Homo sapiens: one gene and its partner. The protein of the gene in region 1 interacts with the protein of each later gene in a pairwise test. Each region holds a gene or a part of one and is shown on either strand. Other genes may lie near its edges.

Region 1 (6,338 bases):
CATCATTTAACTAAAACCTGCATTCTATTAATACCCTTTTGTGGGGAGATACTTAGACACCAGACACTTCATCATTTAAAAGTGAAACCAACCCACGCTGGTGATGTATTTCACAAAGAATATCAGATCAATTACAGGAAATAATGAACTTATATTTTCTTTGAACATCTTGCATGGAATAGGTGAATCTGTGACTACATTACACGCAGCTTACACTTTCACCAGTCATCCACATAAGAAACATACCTGTTGAAAGAATTCAAACCTGACCACCTGCCTTCCAGCCAGGAAAGGGACTGTAAATATTAGGATATGAAAGAAAGGCAAAGAGCTGTTGTGGCTACAACTCACAGAAATGAGGTGGAGCCTGTCTTCTCTACCCTCCAGACTAATCCACCAATGCTAGACTTCAACACTAAGGAGTCACAGTCCGTATCATTCACTTTTCCAAGTGTTTCTCCTTCAGTTACCTATCACTGATGGCCTTAAGCCTAGACATCTCCTCAGGTGATTTCAACTTGGCCTTTATGTTGACTTTATGCCTATCTTTTCCTTCACTCTCCTGGTTACTTGTTACCCTGATTTGCCTGTTTCCTTGGTTTTCTTTACTCTTCTGACTTCTGCTGCCAACTCACACAGTCACCATAGGATACACCTATCATTTCAATATTCAAAGGCACTGCTTCACCTCTGGTTTTTCCTTTATAGCACTCTCCTTCAATATCCATGCCTGACCCTTCTCACTTACACACAATCCGATCCAGTTTTACACCAATGCTAAGGTTTTTAGTCTCTTACCACCTATGTTTTGTTTAGATCATTCTTACTTCATAGGCTGTGTCACTAGTTTGAACTATTGAGTCAGCACCATTCTATGGTTTCTGTAACATTGCTTGCATCTTAAAAATGGCATTCTCCAGATAATTTTTTTTAAGAGGTAGGATTTCCTTCTTTAAATGCACAAAATAGCTGGGCATGGTGGCTCACGCCTGTAATCCCAGCACTTTGGGAGGCCAAGGCAGGCAGATCACGAGGTCAGATCGAGACCATCCTGGCCAACATGGTGAAACCCTGTCTCTACTAAAAATACAAAAATTAGCTAGGCATGGCAGCACGTGCCTGTAATCCCAGCTACTTGGGAGGCTGAGGCAGGAGAATCGCTTGAACTAGGGTGTCAGAGGTTGCAGTGAGCCAAGATCGTGCCACTGCACTCCAGCTTGGCCGCAGAGCGAGACTGTGTCTCAAAAAATAAATAAATAAGTGCACAAAGTAGTCAATTGAACAAATACATGATTTCCCATGTCTGACACAAAACTTGACATAGAGAAAGGTACTACAGTTCAACATTCTCACAGACAATTTTTAACATTACTTGTTACAATAGTCTTTGAAACTCTATATAAATGTCTGATTTTTAAAAGTATTATTTAATAACTTCATTACATATATCAGATTTACTTTGGGAGGGTACAACAGCATGTATAATTATTATTTTTCTATGTCTTATTAATGTCTGCACTATGTCCATTTTATGTACCCTAATCTGACAGATGAGCATTGTGTTCCAAGTAGAAATGTGCAACAAATCTCCGAAAATCCAAGGGGTCTAGAGAAGCACCTGGGTTACAGGCTCTGTGTAGTTGCCATGCATTGTTCATGGCTACATCAATCATGTAGCTCACCAAAATTGAGTACCATTTCTTGCTTCTTATCCTCACCCTGTATTTCGAAATAATTTGATCCATTTTAGCTACACCTTCCTTGCATTCATCATACACTTTTACTATGGATGGTTGACTTATCTGAGGGATTTCTTCGTTATCAGCATCACAACAGCTTACCTCATTGACTGGTTCTATGCCCACAGCATTGGAGCACAGACTGATAATGCCATCCCCATACCAACGACACAAAATTATCTCATTGTTTTCTTCTATTCGGAAATCAAAATACCCTCTCTTCATTTTTTTCATATGTTCTACATTCATAAGGGGACATTTTTCGGTCCTGTTCTCACGAATTGTTCCTGTTGCCCTCACCCCCTTCTTTTTCAAGGCTGACAACAATTTGACACTTGTAAAGAAGCTATCAAAACACAGGTGATAGGGATACTGACCTCTCTCTAAAAGAACATCAGCGAAGTTCATCACTAGATTTCCACCTAACCCAAGATCAGGATCCTCATCTACCTTCATAGTTGATTCTTCTTGATAGGGTTCAAACCAAACCAGATAACCCTGTGTGGTTGTACCACACCAAATTTTATAGCCAATTCTAATAGGCTTTCCATTCAGGAATTGGTCACTATCAAAGCATTCACACATTGACTTATCAAAGCAATAGTATTCTTCCAGGGGAGCATACAAGAGGAAATTTTTATTCATTTGTTTTATGAGAGGTCTCAACTTTGTAAACTTATCTTTTTGATCTAGGTGGCCATTATCTGCAAAGTGCAGGTTTGAGAAAATCAATTCAAATCTGTCCCTTCTGATTGCATCTCTAACCAGGTTCTGATCGGTGTCAGAGACTTCCCAATACATTTCCCTTCTAGGATGCCTCATAAATCCACTCAAAAGTAAGACACCAAACACACACCTCATTTCCTGAACTGTGACTTCCAAGCTGACATTTTTCTGAGAAGCATAATTATTGGTTTCATTGACAATTAAGTTGAATGTTTCATCATCAAAAAATAATTCAAAAAGCTCTACTGGGTTCAACTTTTCGCTCTTGAGATTCAAAAGTCCAGAATCCAGTGCTGACCAGCTTGGAAAATTGGGTTTAATGTCTCTTTTGGTCCAACTCTTTTCTGGGAAACATGATACCTTTAACTTCTTTTGAGCAGGCTGGATCTCAGGCTCATTATCTTTTTCCACATCTGAGTCACCAGAGAATGAGAGGCCTTGGAGCAGTTCACTCACTCGAGCTTTGTCTTTTTTTCTCCCTTTTCGGGTAATGTCTCCTGCAGCATATTCCAGGGATGAGATGTGCATGCGGGCCCACAAATCACCTGGGTGACGGTCCTTCAGAGTGTTCAAATGTGCAACTGTCCTTTCAGTAGCAATAGGAGTACTACAAGGAATCTGGGGTGCACACTCTCTGGGAAAGAAAAAAAGAACATGTTATAAAAATCCTCAATCATATTCTCTCACACATGATAAATCTGCTGAAGCTTAAATCTTTTGGGGCTTGGGGTGGGTGTGGGGGGATACTTACTTATTTCTCTTAAGTTTCCATGGGGAGGACTTTGGCTAGATTAAACATTTCTAGCCACTCTCCACCTCTCACTCACTCCTCAGGATGGAACTAACTGTTGAGCCTGGGAGAAATAACTGAGTATCCTTGGTACACTCCTCCCTCTGTCCTCTTTAGGAGCAGGATGCAGACATCCCATGCTCCTTGGTGCCCCAAGTTGCATTGAGAAGACCTATGCAGAGGGACATCTGCTACACTCCTCCTCTGCCAGTACAAGCCTATTTAGCTCTGCCTTTAAGCCGTTTTTATCCAGTCTAACTTCTGTCAGTAAGAAACTGAGGTTTCCAGAACCATCTATTTTACTCCTGCATCCCTGTCAATTGGTTCTGAATCTGAACAAGAAAAAAAGGTTATTATTTACCAGGTCTTCTGACATCTCTCACAGAATTTCTGAACATGGAAGGACTTAGCCCCTGCTAGTTCTACATTCATCTGATGGACATACTACTCTGGGGAAAAACAAATGAAACTCAACTCATTGCACTTGGACTGATTTTTATGGGGTTTACAAGGAAGTAAGCTAAAGTTACAAAGATGAAAAGTTTTGTTTTGTTTTTTTTTTTTTTTGAGACAGAGTCTAGCTCTGTCACCCAGGCTGGAGTGCAGTGGCATGATTTCAGCTCACTGCCACCTCTGCCTCCCAGGTTCAAGCAATTCTCCTGCCTCAGCCTCCCGAGTAGCTGGGACTACAGGCACGTGCCACCATGCCCAACTAATTTTTGTATTTTTAGTAGAGACAGGGTTTCACTGTGTTGGCCAGGCTGGTCTCAAACTCCTGACCTCGTGATCCACTCACCTCGGCCTCCCAAAGTGCTGGGATTACAAGCATGAGCCACTGCACCCAACTGAAAAGTATTATTTTACACAAAGTTTTTAATTTTTAGACATGTGCATTTAATTTATTAGTGTTCTGTTGGTAAACTAGTCAAGTTTTCAAAGACATTTAAGAAGCATGAAGAGTATATTTTAATATAATTTACACTACATACATTTCTTTATGTAAAGTGTTTATCATCCAGGGTGTCTTCAGTGTCTGCATGTATTCAACACATCCATCTTAAAGTTCCCTGACATCCATAACTTCAGTGACATTCCTTGATCACACTGAGTCTTTCTACTGTTGACATCTAAACTCTAAGAACCACAGTGCATTAAGCCCAATATTGTGAGGGAAGGAAATGGGAGTGAGAAATGGGAAAAAAGAGTGAGCTAAGAAAGTGGGGTGGGGGTGAGGGAGGGGGACTAGAAGGAGGGCAGGGGGCTAGACCTTTGATACCATGGTTAAGCTATTGCACCTAACCTGAAATAGCCTACCTTCACACTTTTTGTTATATGAATATCTTTATTATAGGCACTATGAATTACCTGTTAGTTGCCTGATACTAAATGTACCTACAGGCACAATAGCAGATTCCTATTCTCCAGTTGCATAACTCTGCTCTAAGTTACTGAACATCATATCTCTTCCTTTAGTGGAGCCTGGCTCAGTCTTCACTAATCTTAATGCAAAATTTCACTTCTCCTCTTGAGCTTTAAGACATTTCTACTTTAGCTGAGATTTAGCTCCCAGTTTCTCTAAGTTAAACAAATGTCAATAAGGAAAATTCACACCCCCTTCTCAGCTCTTTGGCCAAGTAGCCCACCTTGCTTACTCTCTCTTTTCTCAAGTCTCTGAGGACCAAATGGCCTCACCAGAAGCCAACCCTCTGCTTGTGATTTGTTCCCTCTCTTTCTGCAATCCTGAGAAGCCTCGGAATGTTGGGCATTCCCGAGGCTTCTCCACCTTGTTCCATTTCTTCAGAAGTTTCTTGCTTTGCATAGGAGTATCTGTTACAAGTTCATTCATTCCCACAACCAGCACTTATGAAGCACACACCACTGTCATTCATTTCTACTTCATCAGCTAACTTTCCTTTTGACCTATACCTTGTTCAGGTCTCCCAATGGCGGTTGAAAATACAGGTTAATTTTCCCTTATCTGAAATGCTTGGGGTCAGAAGATTTTTGAATTTTGGATTTTTTTCAGATTTTGGAATATTTGCATTATACCAGTTGGGCATCCCTAACCAAAGATCCAAAATCCAAAATGCTCCAATGAGCATTTCCTTTGAGCATCATGCTGGTGCTCAAACAGCTCAGATTTTGGAACATTTCAGATTTGGAATGCTCAACCTGTACCCTGCTTGTCCTCTTCCACTCTGACATTTCTTTCTTAACTGTCATGGCAGCTTCATCTGTAGCCCTCATTCTTGTTAAATTATCTGCCTTCTAGCTTCTCCACAGCTCCATAAAAATGTAAGGGAGCCCAGGGAAGGGTAATCAAGCAGGACAGACTGGATCAGGATAGGCTTCTTGGAGGAAACTGAGTATCAACTGAAGGTTTTGTATATTTATTGCATATTGAAAATTTTGAATAGGTCACTTTCTTGGCATGGACCTCCTATGATCACAGAAGTGAGTGGCAGTTGTCATATCTTATTCCAGAGAAGCAGGCCTTTGACCAATTGGTTTCTCTGATTCCATTCCAATTTCTTATATCTGCAGGATTTGATTCACTGAGGACCATGGACACTCACCTGTTGGGCTTTCCTGAGGCTTCTCCACTTTGTTCCATTTCTTCAGAAGTTTCTTGCTTTGCTTTAAACAATCTATCTTTAGTTACAATTTCTTCAGCTAAAATATAACATTAATGATTTAAATGTCATCTGTTATGTGAATTTTGAAAAAAAAAAAAAAAAAAAAAAAAAAAAACTTCCAGGGTAGGGAATAGATGTTCCAAATCAAACAAAAAACAAATCATATTGGTGTTTCAAGGGTGCACAGTTTCAGCAATCCTACAAAATGTGGCATGGTATGGGAAAATGATAAGAAAGGTTAATTAAGGCACCAAAGCCCAGCTGCAGAGAGGGCCCAACAGGGCAGAGCACATTTCAAGAAAATTAGGCTGGGTGCTTTGGGAGGCCAAGGTGGAAGGACTGCTTCAGGCCAGGAGTTCAAGACCAGCCTGGGCAACATAGCGAGACTCCGTGTCTACAAAAAATTACCTGGGTGTAGCCCCAGCTTTTTAGAAGGCTGAGGTGGGA
Region 2 (8,165 bases), on another chromosome or scaffold:
GGCCAGGCATGGTGGCTCACGCCTGTAATCCCAGCACTTTGGGAGGCCGAGGCAGGTGGATCACGAGGTCAAGAGTTCGAGTTCAAGAGCCTGACTAACATGGTGAAACCCCGTCTCTACTAAGAATACAAAAATTAGCCAAGCGTGGTTGCGGGTGCCTGTAATCCCAGCTACTCGGGAGGCTGAGGCAGGAGAATTGCTTGAACCCGGGATGCGGAGGTTGCGATGAGCCGAGATCGAGCCACTACACTTCAGCCTGGGCGACAGAGCAAGACTCCATCTCGGGGGAAAAAAAAACACGGAAGGGAATTCCGACACATACTGCAACATAGATGAACCTTGAGGACATTATGCTGAATGAAATAAGCCAGTCACAAAAAGGCAAATAGTGCATAATTCCAATTATATGAGGTATTTATAGTCAAATTAATAGGGACTAAAAGTAGCATGGAGGTTGCCAGGGGCTAAGGGAAAGGGTAAATGAGGAGTTATTATTTAACGTATAGAGAATTTCAGTTTGGGAAGATGAAAAAGTTCTACAGATTGGGTGTACAACAATGTAAATATACTTAACACCACTGAACCGCACACTTAAAGACAGTTAAGATGGAAAATTTTACGCTATGTGTATATTACCACAATTAAAAACAGAAATTAAAAAACACTTATAAACAACATCTTCATGATGGTGACTTTTAGTGCACTGGGAAGAAACTATCACTGGGAAGAAACTATCAGAGTAATACAACAGTACTGACTTATCAAAATCTCTGTACTGTGCTCGCTATGGCATTTACTAGGGACTGCAGGAATTGAAAGATGAAGACCAAACCTCATTAGGTACTGGATTAACAGCATCCCCTTATGTGTTATACTGGTTAAATGTCCAAATTTTAATAAGAAATACTGGTTTTACCTCCTTTGTGTTTGGAAATGGTCACAGTACACAGCAGATGCTGACATGTATGTGTTGAGCATCAGGGTAAACAGGCGTGTGCCACATTTCTGGTGGGGCAAAAGCAAGTTATGGAGATGCCCCCTAACTGGGTAACCTGGCTAACTCCTTCCCATCCCTAGCCCTCCCTTCTCCAAGTTTAAAGTCATGTTGGCTGGGCACAGTGGCTCATGCCTGTAATCCCAGCACTTTGGGAGGCTGAGACAGGAGGATCACTTGAGGTCAGGAGTTTGAGACCAGCCTGGGCAACATGGCGAGACCCTGTCTCTACAAGGAAATACAAAACTTAGCTGGGTGTAGTGGCATGCACCTGTAGTCCCAGCTGCTCAGGAGACCGAGGTGGGAGGATGGCTTGAGCTCAGGAGTTTGAGGCTGCAGTGAACTACGACTGTGCCACTGCATTGAAGCCTGGGTGACAAGGCAAGACCCTGTCTCTAAAAATAAAAATAAAATAAAGTCATGTCAAATGAACTGTGCAGAAAGCAAACTGCTCAGCTTCCGACATTCTGCTGAGACATGGTAATAAGAGTGTCTACTGTTTTTCACAGTTTTCTGTTGGGTAAGGAGCAACTAAACAAAAGCAGGAGCCACACATCCTGTTCCCATGGGAGGGGATGATGCTGTCATAACTAAATCTTGTGCCAGCCAGTGGAAAGTGTTAGGAGGGAAAGTGAAGGAGATATGGCCAGAAAACATGGCCAAAGACAGCAACTGGGCTAGAGAGAGGCGAGTAAGATCACCTGCTGGACCAGCCCCCAGCCCTGACTCTGACTCCTCAGAGCACCCGAGTAAGCAAGTCTTACACAAAAACACGAACGAGAACATTCGAGGAAATTCTGGAATGACTCACCACGTAGATCTGTGACAGGACTGAAATTATCTGTGCTTTCTTCCCTCCACTTCCTAACATTTCTAAAATATAACCATTGCTGCGATGATTATTAAATTGAAAAATTCTCTGTAAAATAAAAGAGCAGAGAGATCTCCTTTTTCACAAGAGGGGAACTTAGACATGCTGAGAGGCCCATCAATGGGGACTCATGGGCCTTTGTTTCCTGCTATCGTCTGCACAAAGCTTCCTGAAGGTGGCCTGATGACAGTAGACCCAGTGGGCGGCTGGGACCACAGGGAAGGAGGAGAAATGGGGCGTCTCTTAAGCTCACGCTCTGCCTATTTTAGCTTTTCTGGGCTGGGACTGAACATCCTGTGTGGCAGTCAGAAAGCTGGCTGGGGTCCTAAGAAAGCTGCCCTGTAGCCTACAGAGGCAAACAGGGGATTTTCAAGGACTCCTGTAGAAACCACTCACCGGGGGTAGCTGGAGGGTGGTCACCTGCTGTGTGTCCCGCACATTCTCTTCCTGAAGAAGGAAAGCATCTTGCAGAACTGAAAGAGATCAGAAAATGGTGTCCTAAAGTGGGCCAGGGCCAGGCCTGGTGCTGATACCTTCTGAGCTTCCTGCGGCTCTTCATTTCCATTTTGGTAGCAAAGAAAATCACAAGAGAGGCACCAACAGGGAACTGTTTCATGGTGCTTTTCATAAAACCCCAGTCTCTGTTCTTAACTGTAAAATGAGGATTACAAAATGACGCACATGAAAAGTACTCTGTAAACCACAAAGATTGCTGCGACTTTGTTTCCAGATATAACAAGGGGGGCTGTAACAGAGTGTGCCTGGGTTCATGATAGCACGGTCAATTAAATGAACTCTTTCACCTCGGGTAGGTCCCCGGACCTCAGCATTGTTATCCAAACTATGGGAAAATAAAGGTTAAAACTCTATGGAGTTCAGCCGTGTGTGGTGGTACATGCCTGTAATCTCAGCTATTCTTATTTTGGGGACTGAGGTGGGAGAATCACTTGAGCCCAGGAGTTCCAGACCAGCAGGGACAACACAGAGTATTTGTTTCTTAAAAAGAAAAAGAAAAAAAAAAAGAAGAAGAAAAAGAAAAAGCCGTAGAGTTGAGGAATCTATAAGGACTCTTAGGGTCTGGATGTGGTGGCTCATGCCTGTAATCCTAGCTCTTTGGGAAGCCAAAGTGGGAGGATTGCTTAAGCTCAGGAGTTCAAGACCAGTCTGGGCAACATAGGGAGACCGCATCTCTATTAAAAATAAAAAAACTGGGAAGCTGAAACAGAAGGATTGCTTGAGCCTGAGAGATGGAGGCTGCAGTGAGCCACAGCTGCACCACTGCACTCCAGCCTGGGTGACAGAACATGGCTCTGTCTCAAATGAAAAAAAAAAAAAAAAAAAGTAAGGGCTGTTGGCAATCAGAATTACTGTGGAACTCCATAAAAAAAGAAGGAAAATCCTGTCATTTTTGACGACATGAATGAACCTGAAAGACATGCTACGAGCAATAAGCCAGACACAAAAAGAAATACTGCATGTTCTCACTTAAATGTGGACTCTAAAAAAGTTGAACTCATAGAAGCAGAGATCAGAATGCTGGTTACCAGAGGCTAGGGAATGAGGGGACTGGGGAGACATTGGTCAAAGTGTACAAAATTTCAGTGACATGAGAGGAGTAAACTCAGGAGTCCTATTGCACAACATGGTGACTATAGGCAGTAACAACGTACTGTGTACTTGAAAATTGCTAAGAGGGTAGATCTGAAGTATTTTCACCACACACAGAAAAAGGATAGGTATATGAGGTAATGCATTATATTAATTAGCTTGACTTTTTTTTTTTTTAAGAGACTGGTCTCACTAGGTTGCCTAGGCTGGAACAGAACTCCTGAGCTCAAGGGATCCTCCCACCTCAGCCTCCTGAGTAGCTGGGACTACAGGTGTGCCACCATGCCCAGCTAAGTAGCTTGGTTTAATCATTTCACAATGTGTATAGATATCAAAACATTACACTGTACACTGTAAATACATACAATTTTTTTTTGTCAATTTGAAGACAGAAATTAAACAAAAAAGAAAAACTGTTACCACTGTAGGTACTCCTGAAAGAGCATTTGACACAGTGTCCTAAAGACCCTCATACAAAATGTAAAGTGTGGCTTTGGGACCATCTCACCAGCCTTATTTTGGGCTACCAGGGACTCTGCCACTCTTCTCTCCTGGAATTGGAAACTACCCTTTGTTCAGGCTTCTGCCATGAGCCACATCCCCTGCCAACAGTGCAGCCATGTAAAAATGAGCTCTGTTTCAAAAGGTACTCCTTTCTCAGATTAAGACTTGGAGAGCTGTGCTATAGTCTACTGGTTAACCCCAGGTCACATGTTAAGTCATTATCAAAGCAAACCCCAGAGGCCAGTGTCCCTGGCCTTTCAGACCTGGAATACAAAGCCTGCAGGAAACAGCAGCTGCAGGAGTGGCTATGTGGAACAAAGGACGGGGCCAGGAGCCCACACAGATGGCAGTGCCATTCTAGGGGTCTCAGTGGAAGGCAGCCTCTTCACTGTGTCTGAAGGGGAAGCTCAGGCTGGATGGGCGTAGATTTGAGGAGGTGGTATTTTTCTGTGTGTATGTTCCATTTTAAGTTTCTATCTTCATCTTTATTTAACTTACTTTTACCTCCCAGTTTTATTAAGCTATAATTGACAAAAATTGTATGTATTTTGTATACGAAAACTGTACAATGTGATAACTATACATTGTGAAATGATTAAATTAAGCTAATTAACAAATCTATACCTCATATATTTTTGTGACGAGAACATTTCTTATTTACTTTCTTAGCAATTTTCAAGTATAAGATGCATTATTTTTCATCAACCTCACCATGCTGTACCATAGATCTCCAGAATTTATTCATCTTACCTAACGGAAACTTTGTACTCTTTGACCGATGTCTCCCAGAGGGGGTGTTTTATTTTTTAGAGGTGGGTTCTCGCTATGTTGCCCAGGCTGGTCTCAAACTCCTGGCCTCAAGCAATCCTCCTGCTTCAGCCCCCTGAGTAGCTGGAACTATAGGCATGAGCCACCATGCCTGGCTAGGAGGTGGTGTTTTAGTTCTGCTTCCTCACACCTGCCACCTTCTGGGATATGTAGCTATCCCAGATATTCATATATATATGAATGGAGATGCCCCCTAACTGGGTAACCTGGCTAACTCCTTCCCATCCCTAGCCCTCCCTTCTCCAAGTTTAAAATCATGTTGGCCGGGCACAGTGGCTCACGCCTGTAATCCCAACACTTTGGGAGGCTGAGACATATGTATATATATATATACACACGCATATATATATATACACACACACACACATATATACACACACACACACATATATACACACACATATATATACACACACATATATATACATACATATATATATATACACACATATATATATATATATATGAATATGTAGTCCCACCCTACTTTTGGCCCCGATAAATGAATACATGGACCCTTTCAAGAATCACTTCGGAGAGTTGCAGACCCTACACAAAATCTAGCTTTTGGGGAAGATCTTCAAGATGAGGAACTATACAGCTCTGATAGGTAGTGCATTCCAATGATGAACTGTCCCAATAGTTAAGGTTTTCCTGATTGCTAACTCTCATCATACCTACTTTGCCTATTGATTATTGCTCATGGAAATGGGAGAGCTGGCCCTGTTTTCCTAAAGCCCATCTGTGGTTGCTGGCTTATCTCAGAACTTTATCAAGAAGCAACTGCACAGGCTACTGTAGTTCCTGAAACTTCTTCCTCTCCACCTGCATGCCTTCCCAGACCCCACTACAAGGCCTCTCACAGCCCCCCACTTCCTGCATAACCCAAGCTACTTGCACGTGCATTATGTGGGCGACTGGCTGCTTCCCTTATACCTGTTGTTACAGGCTAAGTTATGGCCCTCTCAAATTCCTATGTTGAAGCCCTAACCCTTAGGTACCTCAGAATGCGACTGAGTATTTGGAGATAGGGTCTTTAAAGAGGTCATTAAGATAAAATCAGGTCATATGGGTGGGCCCTAATCCAATAGGACTGGTGTACTTATAAGAAGAGGAGATTAAGACACAGACACACACAAAGGAAAGACCACATAAAGAGACCCAGAGAGAGAAGGTGTCTGTTACACCTGCTCTGCAAACTTCTCTTAGTGTAAACATCTTCCTCTTCCTTTCCCTGAAAGAAAACCGCCCGTCATCAAGAGTCCTGGCACAAAGCTTGTTGTCAGCTTTCAGGGCCGGATATTCATGGGTTTTTACGGGTCCCAAAGAGAGCCAGTGGCATAAGAGACTTCCCCTCCTAGCTCCTTTTTTTTTGTTTTGTTTTGAGATGGAGTTTTACTGTTTTTACCCAGGCTGGAATGCAATGGCGTGATCTCAGCTCACTGCAATCTCCGCCTCCCAGGTTCAAGTGATTCTCCTGCCTCAGCCTCCCGAAAAGCTGGAATTATAGGCACCCACCACCACACACAACTAATTTTGTATTTTTAGTAGCGATGGGGTTTCACCATCTTGGCCAGGCTGGTCTCGAACTCCTGACCTCAGGTGATCCGCCCGCCTTGGCCTCCCAAAGTGCTGGGATTACAGGCGTGAGCCACCGCGCCCAACCCCTAGCTCCTTCTAAATGTCTATCTGCAAACTTCTCTTAGTGTTAACATTAGGCATGTCTACAAGCCAAGGAGAGAGGCTTCAGAAGAACCCAAGGCTGCTGATACATTGACTTCAGACTTCCAGCCTCCTGAACTGTGAGAGAATACATTTCTGTTACATAAGGCATCCAGTCTGTGGTACTTTGTTATGGCAGCCAACAACACACCAAACTTGATTTATAAGCAAGAAAAGGCTGAAGAGTTTATGTGATTTGTACAGAAGTCAATATAGTTTTTCCACACACAGAAATTTAATAGGCATTTTGGTTTTATTACTGAAAAGCTTATCATAATGCCAAACACAACTTCTGCAAGTCATAAGAAAGTCTCCCCTGGCCCCCCAGACACTCTCTTTCCATTGTACCTATAGAGCACTATGGCAAGTCCACCCAGAGTCATAAGAAAGCCCCCCTGGCCCCCCAGACACTCTCTTTCCACTGTACATATAAAGCACCGTGGCAAGTCCACCCAGAGGAACCCACGGGCCAGACTTCCTTCAACCCAAGGGCGCTGGTTTCCCATGATATGTACTTAAAGTTTTGGGCACCTCAGGCCTTGTGTTCAACCTTTTGTAGGTTGTATCTCATTTAATTGTCCAAAAACCCCAAAAAAGGTAATTACTATCTCTGCTGGACAGAGGAAGAAACTGAGGCTTTCAGAGTTTAGAAACATGCCTCAGGTCATAACCAGAAGATTCAAATCTAAGTTTATCTGATGAAAAAACTACTTTCCTGTAGCTACCATGTACTTCATATACATACTCAAACTATGTGTAGCTGATGTTCTGGCCCCACACACTAGACACCACCCTGTGTCCTCCTAAGTATTTCTACATCTCTTCGCAGCATCACAATACTCCTGTAAACAGGAGTTGTTTAGCCAAGGAAACAGAGGTTCCAAGAGACAAGAAATGGCCATGCTCCAGTCATGCAGCAGGCCCCAGCTGTACACTGGCAGTCCCCAGCTGTCATCAAACTGACAAATCCTGCAGAGATGCACCCTCGAAGAGATGAGAGGGCACCACCTCAGTGACACCCACCTACAGAAGCGTTAGCTCTGAGAGGCTCTAGAACCATGAAGAGGACAAACATCCTGATGAGGTTCTCATTTAATTGCTCTAGGAAGGGACTCAGACCCTGACAACAGCTCACAGCACCTCGGGGACACGAGAACACTGCTGATGTAAAAGCCATCAGCTTAACAAAAACCACACCCAGTGCACAGTATGGGGTGTGCACTTCCCCAGATCACCCCTGCTACACTCCCCTGGGCTGCATACCTGGGTCCCCGCTGAGCTGGCTTGGTGGTCTGCTTGGGAGCCCCAGGCACTGTGCCAGGGTTATGGGCTGGGCATCCTGGTTCTTTGCAAGGTCGCTGTGGGGCTCTACCGGCAGCTGCTCCTGCTCCTGGTCCAGAGGGCTGTCCCCATCATCAATCACCACAGGGTCTTCACAGTGCTTGAGCTGCAATCCCAGAGACAGCTTTTCAGGGCTAGGGGAAGAGGTCCCATCTCTCCCTGGGCCTGGTGACCATCCACTCCACAGCTGACCATCAAAGGCTCAACTTAGGCCTTGGACTGGGCTGTAAAGGGGCACGACACTATCATGCCCAAATTAGAGCCTTCAGGGAGTAAAACTGGCTTTCTTAGGAAACT

The links. The genes of interacting proteins can lie anywhere in the genome.
Region 2: the proteins of PGBD1 (region 1) and ZNF496 interact in binary tests that used the Homo sapiens proteins (3 or more experiments, as listed by UniProt).

Annotation. Positions count from the first base shown.
Region 1 is NC_000006.12:28,297,485-28,303,822, reverse strand, and holds the end of PGBD1 (piggyBac transposable element-derived protein 1), read right to left. Parts: exon of another isoform or gene 6,300-6,338; intron 5,929-6,299; coding exon 5,832-5,928; intron 3,100-5,831; coding exon 1,539-3,099; 3' UTR 1,274-1,538; downstream 1-1,273.
Region 2 is NC_000001.11:247,320,893-247,329,057, forward strand, and holds part of ZNF496 (zinc finger protein 496), read right to left. Parts: intron 7,975-8,165; coding exon 7,791-7,974; intron 2,339-7,790; coding exon 2,262-2,338; intron 1-2,261. UniProt on the Homo sapiens protein: DNA-binding transcription factor that can both act as an activator and a repressor.